Linked DNA regions of Homo sapiens. The protein of the gene in region 1 interacts with the protein of each later gene in a pairwise test. Each region holds a gene or a part of one and is shown in the gene's direction. Other genes may lie near its edges.

The links. Proteins that work in one complex are often made in the same cells at the same time.
Region 2: the proteins of ASPA (region 1) and PIAS1 interact in binary tests that used the Homo sapiens proteins (3 or more experiments, as listed by UniProt).

Annotation. Positions count from the first base shown.
Region 1 is NC_000017.11:3,473,684-3,477,431, forward strand, and holds the start of ASPA (aspartoacylase), read left to right. Parts: upstream 1-2,313; 5' UTR 2,314-2,476; coding exon 2,477-2,712; intron 2,713-3,748.
Region 2 is NC_000015.10:68,052,175-68,055,922, forward strand, and holds the start of PIAS1 (E3 SUMO-protein ligase PIAS1), read left to right. Parts: upstream 1-2,140; 5' UTR 2,141-2,152; coding exon 2,153-2,176; exon of another isoform or gene 2,177-3,051; coding exon of another isoform or gene 3,052-3,057; exon of another isoform or gene 3,058-3,061; coding exon of another isoform or gene 3,062-3,064; exon of another isoform or gene 3,065-3,709; coding exon of another isoform or gene 3,710-3,739; intron 3,740-3,748. UniProt on the Homo sapiens protein: Functions as an E3-type small ubiquitin-like modifier (SUMO) ligase, stabilizing the interaction between UBE2I and the substrate, and as a SUMO-tethering factor. Catalyzes sumoylation of various proteins, such as CEBPB, MRE11, MTA1, PTK2 and PML.

The DNA of each region.
Region 1 (3,748 bases):
GACGGGGTTTCACCATGTTGGCCAGGATGGTCTCGAACTCCTGACCTTAGGTGATCCGCCCACCTCGGCCTCCCAAAGTGCTGGGATTACAAGCATGAGACCACACCTGGCATCCTTTTGTTTTAAACTACATTATTTTATTAATACATCAGGCAACTCTATCCCACAAAACATTTGTAATGCTGGAAGTTATGCTTACTCTTTTAAGTACTTCAGAATATTATATATTCAACTTAATAATGAGATAGTGACAATTCGAAAGGGTTTCACTTCGTATACTATCAGTTCGCTGAGAACTAATAAAAAAGTGTGGTTTTTTGGGTCATCCCAAAAATCAAGTACACTTTGGGAAACAGGGAGTTAAAAATCTTTCGGAAGTTAACTTGGTATAAGAGTATGAAAAGCCTCTGTTGCTCTACTTCTGAGGAAATGCTCTCCTTTTTCCTAATAAAGCTTTCCACAGAAGACAAACTCTGTACACAAAAAACAAGGTAAGTATGGGAAATAATTGCTGCAATTCATTAACTCTCAAAAAAGTTATTCATTTTGACATGTAAGAGAAACTTTATTTATGAATGTGAAATGTGCTTCAAAGTGCTGATCTGTTAAAATTCCATAAAACAAGCTTCAAAATGCAAGTCATTTGTGCCAGCTACGAGTAAATAACTGAAGCAGCATTTCCAGAGAGACTAGGGCAAAGGACAGAACAAACTACAAATCAGCAGAAAAGAAACCAAGCATAGTAGAGTGTTAATAATTCACCATGGTTACTGCTCTTAAAACCAAAGCAACTAAACAACTGTCATCTGTTTACTTTTACGTGTGTTTTCATCATCTCTACACCGTCTGAAGTGTTCAGTGTACATGGATGTGGACAGACAGTCAAAGCCTACAGGAGCTTTTTTTTTCTATTAGAACAGTCATTTTAATGCATAGATTTGATGTGGTTATTTTGCTTTCTCTATCTCTGCATTATAAGCTCTTAAAGGAAGAACATTCAGTGGGTTTATTAAATATTAGGAAGCATTCATATTTTATTTTTCCACCATGTATTTGGTTTGTATGCATGTTTGTTTCCTGAGCACACTGTAATGGCTGTTTATGTGAATTCTGAAAGAGCAAAACTAGAACTGTGAAGAAGACCAAAAATAACAGAGAGGCACCCTATTGTCCTGTGAAAAACACTAGACTTGGGATGAGAAACATGGGTCTCAGGCCTAGGTTCTCCTACATCCCTGCAGAACCTTAACTGAGTTACTTAACCTCTCTTTCGTTTACCCCTGCAGTGGGGATGTCAACACCTAACCCACCCTATCGTATAAAATTAATGTATGAATAAACTGAGTGAAAGGACATTATAAATTAAACTCTGCAATTGTAATAAATTACTCTTATTGTACCCTCTATCAAACAACCTGGCGTTACTAGTACATGGTATTCCCAGTACTTGAACATATGTGACTTTCTGGGTGACTGAGCATGAAATCAAATCAGATTTGGCTCAGAGTCATTTCTCCAAAGGGATGTAATCATCTTAGTATTCTGGAAAATTTCCCCTAATAAGACCCCTTTTTGAGTAACACAGTCCAGTGGAGAGTCCCCGCTGACAGTGAATAAGGCTGTGTCTATGTAAGTTCACATGATGTGGTTAGCACATGCAGTGTGTCCCAAGACATTTTCAGGCATCACAAAAACTTGAAAAGTACTAACAGTTGTCTTTCCTTTGGTATTTAGGCAAAAAATGAGGAAGATTCATAAGTAAGTTAACACAGAATTACCAAAAACCTCATGAGAAAGAAATGAAGGGATGTTTCAGGGTAGCTTTTCGAGTCCCAAGTGATCATTGATTTGGCCCTTCTGTTTCTGATTGTGAAAAAGCATTCTGAAAGAATGGGCGCCGGTTCAAGAGGAGGTCTCTGAGGGTCAGCCTTTGGCTGTTTATAGAGGTGAGATTCAAATGCCCTCAGATCATGAAAAGTGCTTGAACTCATTTCAGAGAAGAAATGTTTTGAAATGCCCGTGGAAATACTGAGTGGGCCACTTTTTTATTTTGTGAAATTAGAAACGTATAAACTATTTTTATTATTACAGATAATTGTGAAAGCCTCACTGGATGACATCCTAGCTGAGGAAAAGAATGGAATTTTTGTATTAGTATGAAATGCTAATTTATTACTGTATTTAGATCTACTGACCATCTGAGGGAGTTAGAAGTTAAAGTAAACAGCTGTATCTCTAGTTGATCTTTGCATATTTTAATCCAAATATGGCAAAGGGCAGGGCTAAAGAAGGGAGTGTCCATAAACGGGGCTCAGAACTTGTAACAGAAAATTAAAATATACTCCACTCAAGGGAATTCTGTACTTTGCCCTTTGGGTAAAGTCTCATTTACATTTCTAAACCTTTCTTAAGAAAATCGAATTTCCTTTGATCTCTCTTCTGAATTGCAGAAATCAGATAAAAACTACTTGGTGAAATGACTTCTTGTCACATTGCTGAAGAACATATACAAAAGGTTGCTATCTTTGGAGGAACCCATGGGAATGAGCTAACCGGAGTATTTCTGGTTAAGCATTGGCTAGAGAATGGCGCTGAGATTCAGAGAACAGGGCTGGAGGTAAAACCATTTATTACTAACCCCAGAGCAGTGAAGAAGTGTACCAGATATATTGACTGTGACCTGAATCGCATTTTTGACCTTGAAAATCTTGGGTAAGACTATGCTTTGTATTGTATATGTATGTATGTTGTGTGAAAAGTGGTAGGTGTGTGAAAGAGAACACATATATGTATATGCAGATGATAATTCATGTCCGTACATGCAGTCGTATGTTGAATAAGATCACTTTCACTTTTAATTATACTGCATTGTGAATTGCACAATTATCTAAACTGGGCATTCACATGCTCTTTTATAAACCTTCTTAAGCACCAGATTATTAAGTTTTCTTTTCAAATGTATACAGACTGAGACAATAAATAGAAAAGGGTTTTGTTTTAAAATCATACCTTTAAAGAAACAGATTTAATACTCCTTTGCATTGAGTTAGTGTTTGGCCACTATGCTTGCATATAAAATTGTTAGCTTTTTAGGAAATTCACTACGTTTTCAAGCAACTATGCTTACGGTAATGCATAAAGTTCTAGTTCAAAAAATGTAATGTTTCAAGTAATATTTGTTGAATGAAAGCGTGATTAAATATCTTTTGTCAGAAGACATCAGACACTTTGGGAGGCCGAGGCAGGCGGATCACGAGGTCAGGAGATCGAGACCATCCTGGCTAATGCAGTGAAACCCCATCTCTACTAAAAATACAAAAAATTAGCCGGGCGTAGTGGCGGGTGCCTGTAGTCCCAGCTACTTGGGAGGCTGAGGCAGGAGAATGGCGTGAACCCGGGAGGCGGAGCTTGCAGTGAGCCAAGATTGTGCCACTGCACTCCAGCCTGGGAGACAGAGCAAGACTCCGTCTCAAAAAAATAAATAAATAAATAAAAATAAAGACATCAGACCTCCCTGTGATCCGAAGTAGCAGACGTACTTAACTTCCATGGTGGATTGTTGTAGATGGGATACCAGAGATGAGAACTAAAGACACCATCTGAATTTTCAGAGCTTATATTTTGCTGATTTGTAATATATTGCATACAACGTAAGCAGTCATAACATGCTAGGTTAGGTCCTTATTAATTATTTTTGCCTTCGTTTACATCATAATAGCTACCACTGTGGATATAATATGACTCCACA
Region 2 (3,748 bases), on another chromosome or scaffold:
AGAAGTTTCAATCTTTAACAGGCATGATAATGAAATTTCCTGTTTTAATCCTTAAAATAGAATACCTGAAGTAACCCAATGTTAACCAATCAGTTTTCTTTCTACTGTTCTGTCTCCACGTCTCCACCTTAAAGAAAAGTGACTTTGATATAACCAATCTGCTTTTTGTTGTTTCTGCCTTCTTCAGTCTATTTTCTGTCTCTAAAGTTAACATCCTCTGCTTGATTCATTGCAACATTTATTCTATTTTGTGGAATGAAGTTTTGTCCAATTCTAGGAGTGCAATAATGCCAATGAGATCTTGAATCTCAATTTGTTTTACTTTTGTTTCTTGACAATGGAGAGGTTTAGGCTAGAGAGCATTTTCAAAGTCATGAGCATATAGACTTCAAGTCAACCAGTTAGATGAGATCACCTGGTGATAAAATAGAGAAGAATGCAAGGACCGAGCCCTGGAGCAGTCCAACATTTAAAGATTGAGCCAAAGAGGAGAAACCAGCATATCAAAAAGGAGGCCCAGTGAGGGAACAGGACTATCTGTGACGTGTAGGTAAGTTCAGGGGGAAAAGTGTTTCAAATCAAAGGAACCATGTCAATTATTCGCGATTCTACAGAGAGGTCAATTGAGATATGGATAGAGAATTGGCAATTGCCTTTGGAAACAAGATCATTAGTAATCTTGATAAGTGATACAGATGATGGAAGCCAAAGCTCGATCAGGGTAGACTGAGAAGTGAATGTGAAGTGAGAGGTAGGAACAAGCACTATTGGAGAGATCTTGAAAAACCTTTCTAAGAATTTATGAAGATAGCAGAAAAATAGGGCAGTTCCTAGAGGCGATTTTGGAGTCAAAGGAAGTTTATTTTAGATGGGAGAAATTTCAATATATTTATATGCTGATAGGAGCAATTCAATTGAGAGGGAAAAAACTAACGATGCTGGAGGGTAGGTAATTGTAAGAGTAAAATCCTTAGGAATGTGCGTGAAAAAAATCCGGTCACTGGTAAAGGGACTGGCCTTCCTAGGCGCAGGGACACTTCATTCATAGCAACCCAAATGTTACTATGCAGATAAGGGTGGTTTTGATGGTGAGAAGATAAGGGAGTTTATTTCTGATATCTTTCATTTTTTCCATGAGTTATGAGGCAAAGTTGATTAGTAAAAGTGGGGGTTGGGGAGGAGGTATATAGAAGGCTTTCAGTAGAGACGAAAAGGAATGAAATAATCCTTCCATCAAGTCTACTTAAATGTCAATTTAGTGGATAAAACCCTCCCAGAATTAAGTACATCTCCCAAACCCTTTCTCTCTCTCAATGACCTTTTGCTCCTTTCTGGTACTCACTAACATTTGCAATTGTATCTTTGTTCGTTCACTTCTCTGATTCCCCATTAGAGAACTACAGAAGGGCACGGACTTTGATTTCAAAATGTATATTTAGCCGTTAGCACAAGGCAAGCAGATGGTCACTAAATAAATACTTTTTTAAACAAAAATGTTAATGAACACCTTCAAAATTTTGTCTTACGCCACCTCGTTAAAATACTTGTTTGTGCAAGTCACTTTTCCTCTCTGAGCTTTCATTTCTGAATCTATACCATGGGAATTATCTCTTCCTTGCCTACCTCCCCTCGTTATCAAGAGGATCTGAGCCAATAATGATAGAAATGCTTCATTAAGGGCCCCTTAAATGTAATGGATTTCTATTTTTAGCCCACTGGTAGCCTCGCAGGTAGCAGGTGCTGAAAAAGCCTTGCTTATTGGGGGTTGGGGGACAGCATTGTTTCTGTGACCGTAGGCGTCGAAGCTATGCAGAAGCGTTCCGCGGACCGCAGAGAGATGGGGCTCAGGCCAGCATCCCTCTCGCTCCGGCCCTTCCCGGGAGGAGCTGGCCGAGCTAGGATGGGGGGCAGGGAGACCGAGGGGGCAGTAACTGTCAAACCTCGCCGCTTGGCGCCATTATTTAAATGGAACGTGCCTGTCTCGCAGCTGTACGTGCCCGGGGCGGGGCTTCGAGCGCCCTGAGCGGGGCGGAGGCTAGAGGCGGGCTGGGAAGGTGGAGGGGCGGGCCGGGGCGGGGCCAGGCCGGCTAGAGGGGCGGGTCTAGCGGCGGCCCCCGGCGAAGTTCACTGCGCTTGCGCTGACAGACGCAAGATGGCGGACAGTGCGGAACTAAAGGTAAAGCGCAGCTCGAATTCACTTCTAATATTCGGCCGCGGAGACGGCGCCGCTGCTGCCAGGGGGGATGGGTCCGACCCTGGGGGGCCTCTCGGGCCTGACTCCACCCGGGCCTGGAGTTGTAGGGAGAGAGGCGCGCCCGGTCTCAGCAGAGGGGGCCCGCCTGCGGCGGGCCGCGGGCCCCGGGTGCCTCGGGGGCGCTGACGGGTCGTCCCCGGCGTGTTATTGTTGTGGGCGCCTCTGGCGGGGGTGGCGGGGGAAGAGATAGGGAGTCCGGAGGTAGGGGCTGCAGCTGTCTCATGGGCTCGGCTTTTTCACCTTCCAGTTAGCCTCCCTGCCCCCCATGGGGAGCTGGGGCTGGGGGCAGGGTGCTCTCGTAGGGGGGATTGGGAAAGCTCCCCGTGGCCGCTTCCTCTTCCTCCTTTGCAGTCCCGGGCTCCTGTCAGGCGCTCTTCTCAGACCCCCGGGAACTTGGCTTCGGCCGCCCCGCCCCTCCGTGGATCCCAGTAGCCCCCGCCCCGGACTCGGCTTTCCCCGGCTGCTCGCTTGTCAGGAAGCGCCTGGGGTGCCCCGCTTGTGGGAAGCGCGATCCCGGGGCGATAGGGTGGGGATCTGGGGGAGAAGCTCTGGTAAAGTTTAGCGAGCCCCGGGCCGGCGTTGGGGTTCGGCTGAGAGGTAGTGAGCGGGACGTTACTCTTTCTCTCTGATTCCGGGCAGCCGAGGGGAGAAACCCCCTCGAAGAGTGTGTCTTTGGAAGCAGTGTTGGGAGGGGGGGATGCAGCTACCTCTCTCCCTTCTTTTGCCTTAGCTGGTGTGGAGGGTGAGAGGAGCCTTTGGGGGTCTCTGCACACACCATGATGGCGATGCTGTAGCTGATGGAGGTGAATGGTTCGTGTTTATATCCCCCCATTGCCTTTTGTTTGTAGGGACATCTTGCTGGCCATGTTGATTTGAACGAAATTCTCCCCTCATGCTACTCCAACCCCCGATAAATAGAACGTTCCTCTTAACAGTACCAATTACTCACGCCTCACGAAATTAGATGAAAGGGTGCCCCCTTTTCCCCGCTTTTCTCCCACCCCAATCTTTACCTGATGATGGCTTCTTTACCGTAGCAGATATACCACTACACAAGCAGTTGGGGGAGGGGGTGGTGGAACCCTTATGACTGGATTGTGACAAATGGGGCTCCGCTTGAATAATTTTGGTTTAGTAGCAGGCAGTTCTTAACTAACGCGTATTATTTCGAGGCTCTGAACGCGATCTTCTCTGTGGCTTCCTGTGTGTGTGAACCCAGCAGCTGGTTATGTCTCGACCCAGAGAACTGACATCTCTGTCAGAGAGGAGATGGGGATATACAATTGTAAATCTTTGGGGAGAGTCTTCTTTTTATAATAAATAAAAATTATTTAATTTTTTCCCCGTTATAATGAAACGACAACTTCTAGAACAACCAAATGCCAGATTTGATTCTGTAGAGTTTTTCCTGTGGAATATCCTCACCGAAAGAGCTTTTCTCCTAATAACTTCACAATGTTTACACTCCAAGATTCGTATGTTAAGGTATTGGCT